2 linked regions of the Homo sapiens genome follow. The protein of the gene in region 2 binds, or shares a complex with, the protein of the main gene of each other region. Each region holds a gene or a part of one and is shown on either strand. Other genes may lie near its edges.

Region 1 (7,027 bases), on a different chromosome or scaffold from region 2:
ATGTACAAATATTAAATACCATGGCCTTACCCCTGCGCCCAGGGTACACGTGCGGGTAGTACTCGTAATAAAGATCTGGCTGATCAAGATTTCCGAAGGGTTCAAATTCCATCTCAGCATTCTGGAAAAGGCCCAACTTCACTAGTAGTGCCAGCCTGACAAACCAGAGCTAAAAACAAAATACAATGGAAACAATAGGTTATCTACATATATCCAGTTCAGAATTTGCTATTCCTTATGAGTTGGTGTTAGAGGTTAATTTCTCATATATTAAAATAAGGGCTAACCTAACTTTCTATCTTTGCATATTTACACAATCGTATTTAAAAAATTACTCTTGAAGCTGGGCATGATGCCTCATGCCTGCAGTTCCAGCTACTCAGGAGGCTGAGGTGGGAAGATTGCTTGAGCCCAGGAGTCTGAGTCCAGCCTGGGCAACATAGCGAGACCCTGTCTCTAAGAAGAAATTACTATTGAGCTTAATAACAATGTGAATGATTTTACATAATTGTTTACTCAATAAGTAAACAGTGCTTACTGAGCAGGTCTGTGTGCAAAGCACTGTGCTAGGTGTCATGAAAATGAAAAGGCACCAAAGGAATGCGCCACCTAGTGGAGGGCGGGGGAATGACGGCGGGAACGGGAGCAGGAAGGAGAGGAAGCGCAGGGATGGGTTGTGTTTGAGGGCAGCTCTCAGGGCTGCAGAATTTCAAGGGGCCACAGGCTAAGGAAGGGTCTGCTGGTTCAGGGAACGTAAGGACAAAGGTACAGAGTGGACAAAACACAACATACGAGAGAGCACAGTGTGCTCTCAGGGGTACATTCAGGAAAATGGTGGGAATTTGCATTAGACAGCTGCAGAGCCAGAGACTTAGGATTAAAAGGGTACCTTAGAAATGACCTAATTGGATCTGACTTTACTGATGAGAAGAATGAATTTCACTAAGTGTCCGCTGAAGGATGAACGGATAAAGGAACGTGGCATGACGCACAGTGGAATACCACTCAGCTTTCATGGAGGAAATCCCGTCGTTTGTGCTGTGGATGAGCCTAGGGGACATGACGTTAGACAAACAAGCCAGGCACAGAAAGACAAACACCGTGTGACCTCACTTACACATGGAATCTGAAAACACTGAACTCACAGAAGCAGAGTAGATGGCGGGTGCCGGGGCTGGGGGTGGGGAGGAGGGCCGGGCAGGGGAGGTTTGAGAGATGTTAGTCAAAGGAAACAAAATCCAGTGACGCAAGGAATAAGCTCAAGAGATCTATTGTAGACGTGGTGACACAGTTACAATGTATACTAAAAATTGCTAAGACAGATTTTCAGTGTTCTCATTACACACACACACACACACACACACACACACAAAGGCATGCGAGGCAATGCATGCGATTTAGCTTGATTTAACCATTCCATAGTGTACACATAGCCTGTCATGGTCTGAGGGTTTGCATACAACACGAGAAGATGAAATTTCACATGGTAGCCAATGGGAAACTATCCAGCTCTTGACTAGCTCCGTTTCAGACCTAGTTGGAAAGGAGGGTGGTTCACCCTCTTTAGGCAGCCTGGTGGTTCCTGGCTCTAGGGAGGTCACCATATTGGTGTTGAGCTAGTGCCAACACCTGATCAACAAAGTGCACTACGGCCCAGAAGCCCCAGGCCCAAGTGATCTTCCTGCCTCAGTCTCCCCAGTAGCTGGGACTACAGTCAATGCGCCACTGCGCCGGGCACAGTTTTCCAGCAGGAAAGTGAGATGATCAAAAGTGTGCTTTTTTGGAGGTAGTTTATGGAATGAATGTGAATAAAGAAACTTGAACTAAGTTCATAAAAGAGGCCAAAGCAACACTGCAATGAGAGCTCGAACTGTGGGTGGTGGTGGGTTGGAGAGAAATGATAGGAAAACAGCCTAAGATTTGGCAAACCAATGGATGGAGAGGTGATGGGGGAAAGTACATTTAAAGCTAGAGCGGCTCTTCTTGTCGGCTCTTGGGGGAAGAGAAAGAAGGAGAAGGAGCCTGCTGGAAATAGCTAAGCTGTCAGGGCTCCCCAGAGCTGCTCCTTTCAAAAGCTCATCACAGTTCTGAAGGATCTGGTGATCTGTTTAGTCCCGGGGGATTCCCATGTAAGCTAGAAGAACAGTTAAAAAACTCCCCAGGGAAAGGTAAGAATGTATCAACGTTTGCAGCTGTTCCTTCTTCTCAGATGAGTTTCCTTTTGTTCACAAGTCTATTTTGTGCATTCCCTTTTCTTTTTTCTTTTTTTTTAAATTTCAGAGCAAGTGATATACCACGAGGAGCAAATGGCACATGGACCCTCCGTCCTTGGGGTGGACAGAACCAACTGCTCCTGTCACTGTTTCCTACCGGGCCCAGACACGCCCCAGAGCCCCGCACAGGCCAGTTGCTACTGCCAGTCGTGAGGCGAACCCACCTGCTGACCCAAAGCCATGCCGGTTCCACCATGAGACTGAGTGTGGGCACTTGTGAGCGTGCTTCTGGGGCGCACAGGCATCCTGACGGGCCGAAGTGAGAATTCCAGTGCCCCAGTATAGTATATACAATATAATTAGGAGAGAAAGAAGCAGGATATGAAAACATACTTTTTGTTATTGGCATGAAAGGCCATGGTCCTGTCCATGTCCCCAGACTGTGATAAGCCAGGTTAAACTCCAGCACCTGAAAGGTGTTCTCACCTGCAGTGAATCTGTCGTGTGGCTGGTGAGCAGCCCGCTCTTGCCGTAGCCCTGGCCGTGGGCTGTGAGGAGACGTCCGCACAGGTCCACTGCTGCCCTCCAGTTTCTGCAGCTCTGCAAGACACGGCAGAACATGTGACCAAACACACATGCAAGGCATGGTGGAATCCATGACCCAAACGCATAGCCACTGGCCACAGCTGCTCACCTTGCTGGAAGCAGCGCCAGCCAGCCGTTAGTAATGGTGACAACGTCAGTGTGCTGACGGCACGGAGGGGCATGCCATTTGTCAACGCTGCACGTGTAATTAGGCAATAAGAGAGCCAAGCGTGAGGTACAGTTCAAGCCGATCAAATCATAAAAACATTACAATTCAACAACCGATAGAACATCGGGAAGAGGCTTTTTATTGGAAAGCTCCGCACATCTCTCAATCTATATGACTGGTTTCCTTTTTAGCAAGATTATCTTAAGATTTCTGTCAATTTAAAATCAATAAGGAAATTTTATGCTATGTGTTGGACATATTTATTTGTATCTGTAAGATTTGCATATGACTCTAAAATAACTGGCTTTATATGTTCATAATTTTAATTTATCAATATGAAAAAATCAATGAACTGGGTGAACACAACATGTTCCAGGCCCGTGTGGCAATGCACAGTATACTTTCACATCACTTAACGTTACGGCTTCAACATGGAAAGGCTGGCTGGTACTGACACACTGGCTGATTCGTACAGACTCTTGTGTTTATCTTTGCCCTTGTGCAATACAGAAAGGACAGCCATTAGGCAAATGAATGGGAAAATAAGATCAGAATGTTTAAACCTTTTAAGAAGCTAAAAGTGGATGCTCACTCTGTCTTTTCTCAATGTAACGGGCACTATCTTTGAATACGGTAGATGTCCTCATTTCTGCAGCCAGTCAATAAACATGCTTTAAGTACCTCCTGCCTGACAGAGACTGCAAGGCTGGCGGGGAGGTTAGTGAACGAGCACTCATTAGTGGTATGATCTAGCAAGGGAGACAGACAATTAAACAATATGTTTCTCAAGAATTAGCTAAATGATTTTGTGTGCATGCCAAGCGCTTCTCTGACAAGAAGTTTAGGAGTTTACATATTTTAAAAACGTGTGGTAGAGCCTGCCACACACTTCTTCTGTATACTAACTCACACACGCACTACTCCCTTTCCACGCCTCCTGCACTCCACGCCGGGACACAGAGAACTCAGGACCTGCTCATGAAACGCCTAGGAGGGCAATGAGTCTCAGCTTTGCACTACAGTTGTTCTGCAGTCCTTTATTTGGGCTTCCTCAGGCAGGAGCTAACGACCTGCTCCAATTCCAGCCACAGCGGCGGTGTGGGGGGCTGTGTTGAAGGCAGGAGAGTGGGGCTTGTGTCTTCCGGGGTTCTGACATGTGGCCTCACACTCACACTGCAGGCTCAGCAATGGCTGAGTTTACAGAGCTGAGGTCATCTGTCCCACCTCACAGATGTGACAATTAAAGAAGATACATGAAAGTGCTGAGCACAGTGCCAGGCAGGAGGCAGGCATTAAAAATGTGAACGATGCTGTTAAAAATTCCCAAACTGTTTCTTCATCAATCCAGAGTCAGCGTGTGCGTGCCTAGTGAAACTCTATGTGTAAGGAAAGGAACGGGTGCTGGGCCTTGAGCTTCAGACAGGCCAGGCTCTACGCCTGAGTAGCCGTGTGACCTGCTGCAAGCCACCAGCCGTCCCTGGGCTGCAGGCATCTCAGTTTCCTCCAGGTCTTCTGAGGGGTTGATAGTTGTTTTTTTTTTAAATGCTGAACATCCTACTGTCCACATTACCAGTGTGTTTACCCACTGACCTATCGAAGGACCCCTTGGTTGCCTCTAGTTTTTGGCAACTATGGATAAAGCTGGTATCAACATCTTTGGGCAGATTCTTGTGTGGATATAAGCATTCGGCATAACTGGGTGAAATATCCAGGAGCGTAATGCAGTAACTGGATTGCTGGGTTGTACCTAAGAGTATGTTTAGTGTTGTAGGAGGCCGCCAAGCTGTCTTCCTAAGTGGCCGTGCCATCTTGCCTTCCCTAGCAGTGAGGGGTCCCACGGCTGCACGTCCCGTGGCACTTGGTGTTGTCCATGCTATTTTTCAGCCACTCTAACTGGCATGCGTTTCACTCTCAGGTGAACTTTCCACCGTTCTCTCATGGAGTTTTTCCTTTCACTGTACCTGCCACAGCCTGACGGTGAGTACTGGCCTCCACGGCACCCACCAGCGAGCTGCAAATATTAGCAGGGCAACTCAAATGAGATTTCTTAAACTCTATCTTGTAGATTTTTTTTTTTTTTTTTTGGAAATGAGGACACCAGAGCGTACACAGTGCAGTTGGAGTCTGTGGTTTTCTTCACTAGCTGGTGTGCGGCCACTGGACCAAGTCAGAGAACCACTGATCGACGGTGAAGATGAGATCGGTGCCACGTTCCCCTAAACTGTCCAGACTACAGCAAGTAATACAGGATTTCTGTGTTCTGGTTGACAGTTCAGAAGTATTTTTAGATTGGTTACGATAATTTACTAAAACGATCTCCAAATGCCTTCTCTAGTCTAAATTCAATGCAATAATCACTTTATATAATACAAATGGCTCTGTATATTCTCTTTGAATTGCAAATGTGAAAGAGTGAGAGGGAAAGAGATTGTGCCAAGTCTGAACCAGTTCTATATATGCATCTAGGCAGATTCTGTATCCAGGGGCAACTAATAACTGCTCCCTTCCTGGTTCCCTAGGCCTAAGGCTCTGGCCTTTCCTGCTAGAAAGGCTGGGGCCCTCTTCCCTCAGGACATGACCTACAGTGAGGACAGGCAGGAGTTAATCAGGGAAGGGGAGGGGGCGGAGACCCTAGAAGAGGACAGAATGTGTGCAAAACAAGGCGAGAGCAGGCATGGGGGGCACAGGGAGCAGAGGGCAGGGTGCAGGGCCCGAGGGGATGCAGTAAGGACCAGCGGGCCGGAGGGAGGCGGTGGAGGAGGGGCCGAGCAGGTGTGGATGAGGAGAGGCTGGGGAAGCAGGTGAGGATGGGGTGGCACAGGAGGTGAGGCAGAGGAGGGTCGGGTGTGCTGGCCTTTGCAGGCTTCCAAGAGCACAGGCCACAGCAGTGTCGTGTCATCACATTTGAAGGCCCCTGTCTCCCTGCACTGATGGGGTGAACTTAAGGCGTCCGTGTAGATGTGAGTAAAGCTATGAGGATGTTCCAGCAGCTGGGCCTGGTGCTGGCAATCTGTGCACATCCTTTGGACGCCCCCCACCCCCTACTGCCTGAGTTGGTAGGCAGAGCTCACAGGAACCCAGAGCCCAGCCTCGTGTGCACCTGCACGGTGATAAGGTTCTGTGCTACCATGGAAGAGCTGGGCATTCACAGCAGAGCTGAGGAGCTGGACAGATACTGTATGGCCAGGAAGTCTACAATGTTTATTCTATGGTCTTTTACAGAAAACGCTGGCGGATCCCAGGTCTAGGCCCCTCGTGGCTCAGTAGTTCATTTCTGTTGACTTCAAGGAGGACTGTGGGCTGACTTCAGCCCGCGAGTGGCTTGCGTCTGATACCTGAGGACGAGGCACAGGAATGGAGATGCTCCTGTAGTCACGTGACAGAGAACTTTATGTGTATGGCATGCAGTGATAACAAAGCAGGGGCCTGCATTTGGCATGTTTTCCATTTTATTCTTTCATGACTGATTATTGTGAATTAGTTATTATTTATATTGATGGTGCAGAGTGGCAGAAGCAGGCGAGTATTTGTAGAGATATGGTTTTCCCATGTTGCCCAGGCTTGTCTTGAACTTCTGGGCTGAAGTGATCTACTCACCTCAGCCTCCCAGAGTGCTGGGATTATGGGATTACAGGCATTAGCCACTGTGCCTGCCACTATGACAATGTTTTTTTTTTTTTTTTTTTTTGAGACAGAGTCTCTATTGCCCAGGCTGGAGTGCGGTGGCACGATCTCGACTCGCTGCAATCTCCGCCTCCTGGGTTCAAGTGATTCTCTTGCCTCAACCTCCTGAGTAGCTGGGACTACAGGCGCCCGCCACCACGCCCGGCTAAAGTTTGTATTTTTAGTAGAGATGGGGTTTCGCCATGTTGGCCAGGCTGGTCTCGAGCTCCTGACCTCCGGTGATCTGCCTGCCTCGGCCTCCCAAAGTGCTGAGATTACAGGCGTGAGCCATCACGCCCGGCCAATGACCATTTTTAAAAATGAGAAACTTAAGGTTTTAATTCTCGTGGAAAGAAGAACAAAGAAGTTCGATGAGTAAATGTTGGCGGAATCTGCA
Region 2 (7,027 bases):
GAGGGGCTAGCTATGGACTGCATGCCTCTCCCTACGACTGAATTGAGCATCCTGTGAAAGGTTTGCAGTGGGGGAGGGACACAGACTGATTTGTGCTTTGGGAAGGACACTCTGGCTGTGTGTGTATAGAAGCAATGAAGGGGAAGGGGGTGCAGGGTGAGGAGTCAGAGACTAGGCGGAGGCTGCTGAGGTGACTGCTGTTGGGATGGGAAGAGCAGCTCAGATGCCTTTCTTTTCTTTTCTTTTTTTTTTGGGAGTCTCACCCTGTCCCCCAGGCTGGAGTGCAGTGGCATGATCTCGGCTCACTGCAACCTCCGCCTCCCGGGTTCAAGTGATTCTCCTGCCTCAGCCTCCTGAGTAGCTGGGACTACAGGCGCGTGCCACCACGCCCGGCTAATTTTTTGTATTTTTAGTAGAGATGGGGTTTCACCGTGTTAGCCAGGATGGTCTCGATCTCCTGACCTTGTGATCCGCCCGCCTCGGTCTCCCAAAGTGCTGGGATTACAGGCGTGAGCCACTGCACCCTGCTAGATGCTGTATTTTCTTATGGGGAGGGTCTGTTAGCAGGGGCCATCCTGACACTGCCTTGTGGCCAGGAAGGAGACAAACGAAGGCTGGCGTTTCTTTTTCTTTCTGCGTCTGCCTTACGTTGTGATCTTTGTTTAAAACTTATTCAGAATGGAAATGCTAAATTCCAGAGTAACAAAGAGTTTGTTGAACTCGTTAGAGTTACACATGATAGGATTTAACATTGTATTGAGATGTGTCAATAACATTCATTTACTTAGAAACGTCACATCTTCTGGATTTCCAGAGGAGTTTTATTCTTGATAAGTTTGCTTTCTTGATGAGGGAAAGTTTAATCCAGCTGCAGTTTTTCTTTAAAAAAAAAATCATCTATCTTAAGAAATATAACATTTAAAGGTTAGATGTATTTAAAAATGATAAAAGGAATACTTTGGTACAGTTTCTTTGGTTTCTGAGTTGATTAGGGACTCAGAAGCCTTTGCATTATTTAGTGGTATATCCTTGCCAATATTTAAAGAGCTGTTAGTGAGCACCCCAGGCCCTGCTCTCTGGAAGCTTTCCTAAAGCTTGCCCTGAAATAGCGAGGATGAACGTCTTGTTTGCTAAAGCCAAATGGTTGGCTAATAAGACTCAGCATAGCTGTCTTTATAAAATAATAAGAGGTTTGATGTTAAGAAGTGGAAGATAATTGATTTTTTTAAAAAGCTGAAACATAAACTTCCTTATGCTAATGTTACAACTGGAAAATCTAAAAAGAAAAATCCAACTGTAACATTGCCTACGTGAAAGACATGGTAGAAGTCCTTACGTACCGATCACCTTTAAACAAATTGCTTGGCAGTACATTTTTGAAATTAAGACCACTCCAGCTCACATAACTGGCAATGATTATTGCTGACTTAAAATTATAGAGCCTACAGTTGCCTTCTTAGCATTTTTAGTAGTGAGAGAATTGAATAGTGCTTAGTCAGAGTGCTTTCTGGGTGGGAGTTGTATAGTAATAAAGATACATTTTCATGTATTTTCTAGACATTACAAGAAGCGGTGCCAAGGCCGCATGCGGAAGCACGTGGGGGACCTGTGCCTGCAGGCAGGGATGCTGCAGGACTCCCTGGTGCATTACCACATGTCGGTGGAGCTGCTGCGTTCTGTGAATGACTTTCTGTGGCTTGGAGGTAAGATGAGCTGATGAAGATGATCTGATATGTAATTGTTTCAACTGTTAATTAAAATGAGAGGCTGGGTGCGGTGGCTCACGCCTGTAATCCCAGCACTTTGGGAGGCTACGGCAGGCCAAATATGAGGTCAAGAGATTGAGACCATCCTGGCCAACATGGTGAAACCACGTCTCTACTAAAAATACAAAAATTAGCTGGGCGTGGTGGCACGCGCCTATAGTCCCAGCTACTCGGGAGGCGGAGGCAGCAGAATTTCTTGAACCAGGAGGCAGAAGTTGCAGTGAGCAGAGGTTGCACAACTGCACTCCAGCCTGGCAACAGAGCGAGACTCCATCTCAAAAAAAAATAAAATAAAATAAAAAAAGAAATGAGAGGAAACGGCAGAAGAAATTCCCCAAAAAGAAGGGATGAGGGAGGAAAAGCAGCCAGCCTGTGCTGGTTGCCACGAGCAGTGGCCTGGGATGCTTCCCTGCTGTATCTGCTGCCCTCCTCCCACCCTGCCATGCGTCCTCTGAAGGAGGCCCTGCCCACACTTTCCCTTTTCCTCTGTTCTTAGTATACCTTGCCCTCTGCTTTGGATGCCGTTCCCCATGATCTTCACCTCTTAGACTCCTCCCTCAAAACCTCCTCCATGTGTCACATGATGAATGGATAAACGAAATGTGGTATGGGCATACAGCGGAATATTATTCAGCCATGAAAAGGAGTGAAATTGTGATACCACTGCAGCACGGATGAACCTTGACAACTTTGTGCTAAGTGAGAGAAGGCAGGCATGAAAAAGGCCGCAGATTGTATGATTCTATATATATGAAGTGGCTAGAATAGGCAAATCTATAGAAGCAGAAAGTAGACAACTGGTTCTAGGGGCTGGGAGGAGGGGGAATGGGAAGTGACAGTTAACGGGCATAAGGTTTCTTTCTGGGGTGATGAAAATGTTCCAGAGTCAGTTAGTGGTGATGGTTGCACAGTTGTGAATATACTAAAAACTGCTGACTTGCACACTTTAAGTGGGTGAATTATATGGTATGTGAACTCTATGTCAATCTTAAAAATTAAAAGAAAGGGAAGAAGAAATCCTACTTCAAAGCACAGCCATCTCTGATCCCCCGCAGCAGTCGGCAGAGCGGGTGCCCTGCCTGAGATGTTGCTGACACTTCGTGGTGGAATCGGATGTCTGTGTGTGGTCTTCCCTTTGGGGACTGCGCCTCCTGGAGGTGGTCCTGGGAGGATGGACTGGCTGAGTCCATTGTGTGGGTAAGGACTAAAACAGGGTTCTTTCGTTGAGGTTGACAGTTTAGCAAGGACACCTGTCAGCCACTTATGATAATACAAGTCGGAATGAAGTAATGAGGTGAGTTCTGTAACAGAAGTTTAACGAGGTGCCGTAGAACATATTAAATATAACAAATTCTTTCGTTCTTGGGGACGGAGTCTCGCTCTGTTGCCCAGGCTGGAGTGCAGTGGCATGATCTTGGCTCACTGCAATCTCCGCCTCCTGGGTTCAAGCGATTCTCCTGCCTCAGCCTTCCGAGTAGCTGGGACTTACAGGCATGCACTACCACACCCGGCTAAATTTTCTATTTTTAGTAGAGACGGGGTTTTGCGATGTTGGCCGAGCTGCTCTTGAACTCGACCTCAGCTGATATGCCTGCCTTGGCCTCCCAGAGTGCTGGGATTACAGGCATAAGCCACTGTGCCCAGCCAAATATAAGAAATACTTCAAACGGCCAGGCATGGTGGCTCATGCCTGTAATCCCAACACTTCTACAAAAAATAAAAAATAAAAAAATCTTACTTCACCTCACTTCTACAAAACAAAATTAAAAAACATTAACTGGGTGGAGACCAGCCTGAGCAACATAGGGAGACCTCACTTCTACCAAAATAAAATAAAATAAAATAAAATAAAAAGACATTAGCTGGGCTTGGTGGTCTGTGCCTGTAGTCCCAGCTACTTGTGAGGGTGAGGCAGGAGGATCGCTTGGGCTCAGGAGGTCAAGGCTGCAGTGAGCCACGATCGCACCACTGCACTCCATCCTGAGCAAGAGTGAGACTTTGTCTCTTAAGAAAAAACCAAAATAAAACTTAAAATGGACTTAAATTTAGTTTTTTAAAGAGGCTAGGGAAATAGAAGTGGGGAAAGAAAGGGAGTAAGAATTAGGGATGGAAAAGAAAAGAGAATCAGATAAAGGATTATGCAGGCTGAGAAAGACATAGTTTTACTTGGTTTTCTTGAAAGAGCATTGTCTCCCTAAGTACTCCTTATTGTATCAATTAGAGAATCTGTGCATCTCCCAGTGGGCTCTGAGACTAGGGCATGTGCAGCAGGTGCTTCTCCAGAAAGACTGGTACTGCCCATATGCCTTCCCCATGCGGCGCTGGACTGGATGAGGAGGGCTCCTAAAGGGCACACAGAGAAGGACGGTGCTGTGTGCCGTGGGCCTCTTCCATGCTCAGCCTCTCAGAAGTGGACAGTGGAGTTGTCCACAAGCTACTTAGGCCTGACATCACAGCAGACTGAATGTAGAAGCTGATAGAAGATCCAGCTGACTTGTATTAACTCTGATATTAAAGAAATGTGTGAACATGTCAAATAATGCCATTCCTCCAGTACTTTATTTTTGTTTTGGAAAACAATTATTTTTCATAAAACTGTTAACACATGACAAGCTTATTATTTTATTTTTTATTTTTATTTTTTTGAGTCAGTCTCACTCTGTCGCCCAGGCTGGAGTGCAATGGCGTGATTTCAGCTCACTGAAACTTCCATTTCCCAGGTTCAAGCGATTCTCTTGCCTCAGCCTCCCGAGTAGCTGGGGCTACAGGTGTGTTTTATCATGCCTGGCCAATTTTTGTATTTTTAGTAGAGTCAGGGTTTCACCATGTTGGCCAGGCTGGTCTTGAACTCCTGACCTCAAGTGATCCACCCACCTTGGCTTCCCAAAGTGCTGGGATTACTGGCATGAGCCACTGCGTCTGGCCTATTTTAAGAGGAATTAATACATAAATACTTAAATCCTTTTCTCAGTTTTATTTTCCAATATGGTAAATATCTACAGGTGTAACCCACATCACAAAAAAAGCTCTTTGTGATCCTAAGTCATTTTTAAGAGCATCAAGGAGTTTTTAGACCAAAAGTTTAAGGAGCACTGAGTTAATGGATAAAGATGATAGAGATGAATACTGTGGCACACCTTCTAAGGCATGTGGCATAGCTGGAGATTATTAGGTTGTTACGTCATGAGAGAAGAACGGACTGTGTAGCGAGTTAATATGGCTGTTTTTGAGGAAGAGGGAGGACTACAACCTCAAAAGGAGCAGATGCCTATGGGGTGCATGGTCTGGAAAGGCATTCTGGTCTTGCTTTGGTGCTATTACTGTGAAATATTTTCAATCCAGGGCACTTTCTGTTATACATCTCTGTAGCTCCAGAACCTGGCGCAGTCTGCCACACAGTTTGTGCAGGAATGCCGGCCACGTGAATGGATGAACGCAGAGGCTGGCCTGTTTTACGTGTGCAGTCAGCCCTGCAGGGAAACCTTGAGTGTGGTGAGAGTGTTCTGCATTGCCTGCCTGGACATGGGCATGGGAAAGACAGGTGGCAAGTTCCCATTTGCAAAAAACTAGTGATCTTTAGGTTTGATCTTTGTTTTGGGAGAAAAATTGGCATTTCCAAATAATCCACCTGTTTAAATCATTGTTAGTTACTGCAGTTTGAGCTAATGAAGGGTCACTGACTTGACTAATGATGCTGGTTTTTGTTTTTTGTTTTCTGGTTTTTGTTTTTTGTTTTCTTAATGCCCAGCTGCCCTGGAAGGATTGTGTTCAGCTTCTGTCATCTATCACTATCCTGGTGGAACTGGTGGGAAGAGTGGAGCTCGGAGGTTCCAGGGCAGCACCCTTCCTGCTGAAGCAGCCAATAGACACCGGCCAGGTGAGCTCTGCCCTTTTTCCGGCCTCTGCTCACTTGCAGTCTTTAAATAAAGCAGACTCATTTGTTACTTTTTCCTTTGAGTTAGGACTAATATTTAAATAAACTGTAAAATCTGTTGAGTCAGTAATTTTTTTTTTTTTTTGAGACAGAGTCTTGCACTGTTGCCCGGGCTGGAGTGCAGTGGCGCAATCTCGGCTCACCACAGCCTCCACCTCCCAGGTTCAAGCAATTCTCCTCCCTCAGCCTCCTGACTAGTTGGGATTACAGGCGCCCGCCACCACACATGGCTAATTTTTTGTATTTTTAATAGAGGCGGGGTTTCACTATGTTGGCCAGGCTGGTCTCGAATGCTTGACCTCGTGATCCACCCGCCTCGGCCTCCCAAAGTGCTGGGATTACAGGCGTGAGCCACCATGCCCTGCCCAGAAATCTTGTATGAGACATTTTGTTCTGATTTTATTGAATACTTTCAATCTTACTGAATACCACTAATGGGTTAGAATGATTGGTTGATTTCTGGAATACTTGTGTAAAATTTCCTGGTAGAACAGACTTGAGGTTCTGTGTCTAAGTCTTTTTTATAATTTTATGTATTAGGAGAAGCTAGTCCCAGAGGTCAATTTTAATAAGCTGATTCAGGGCCTGGGAGCAGTTTCTTATTTTATTGGCTGATGACATTCTCTCAATGAGTTGTTTGATTTGCTTATGCTTGGTAGAACCAATGAAGAGTGAGAAAACTTCTTGGGTAGAGCAGACCCACGAATGCTGAATGAACATGAACGTTTTGGTCCTTGATGAATGAACCTGCCTTTAATGGCTCAGGATTTAGTCATCATGTTGCATAGGTCACAAAGAAGGAAGCAACAAAATAATGAAAGCAGGGATTTATTGAAAACGAAAGTACACTCCACAGTGTGGGAGTGGGCCGAGCAGCGGGCTCAAGGGCACGGATACAGAATCTTCTTGGGTCTAAATACCCACTAGAAGTTTCCCATTGGCCACTTCATGCTCACCTCTTGTAAATGAAGTGGTAGCCTGCAGTTAGTCTGATTGGTTGCGGAAAGCAGCCACTCAGAGGCTAAGGTGAAGTTACAAAGTTATGCTTCTATGCAAATGAAAAGTAGACAAAGTTATACTTCTCTGCAAACTAAGACTCCACCAGCAATCAGTCTGAGTGGTTCCGGACAGCCAGTTTCCCACCTGCCATGCAGAAAAGGTCAAAGGGAGCAGCCTCTGGTCCTTTTGTTACTTAGTCATGGAAAGTTAGGGTTTTCCTTTCAATGTAGTTGTAGGAAGTCTGTGTGAAACAACCTTAAGTTCTTTGCCTCTAGATCCTATTCTTCTGCCTCAGGCTTATCTTTTTTGTGATTGAGAAAATTTTGAT

Evidence for each region.
Region 1: TRAPPC9 (region 2) and TRAPPC12 share a complex: the UniProt entries of both Homo sapiens proteins name them as parts of the multisubunit TRAPP (transport protein particle) complex.

Annotation. Positions count from the first base shown.
Region 1 is NC_000002.12:3,417,667-3,424,693, reverse strand, and holds part of TRAPPC12 (trafficking protein particle complex subunit 12), read right to left. Parts: intron 2,995-7,027; exon of another isoform or gene 2,908-2,994; intron 2,814-2,907; coding exon 2,700-2,813; intron 170-2,699; coding exon 31-169; intron 1-30. UniProt on the Homo sapiens protein: Component of the TRAPP complex, which is involved in endoplasmic reticulum to Golgi apparatus trafficking at a very early stage.
Region 2 is NC_000008.11:140,433,728-140,440,754, reverse strand, and holds part of TRAPPC9 (trafficking protein particle complex subunit 9), read left to right. Parts: intron 1-1,557; coding exon 1,558-1,703; intron 1,704-5,514; coding exon 5,515-5,643; intron 5,644-7,027. UniProt on the Homo sapiens protein: Functions as an activator of NF-kappa-B through increased phosphorylation of the IKK complex. May function in neuronal cells differentiation. May play a role in vesicular transport from endoplasmic reticulum to Golgi.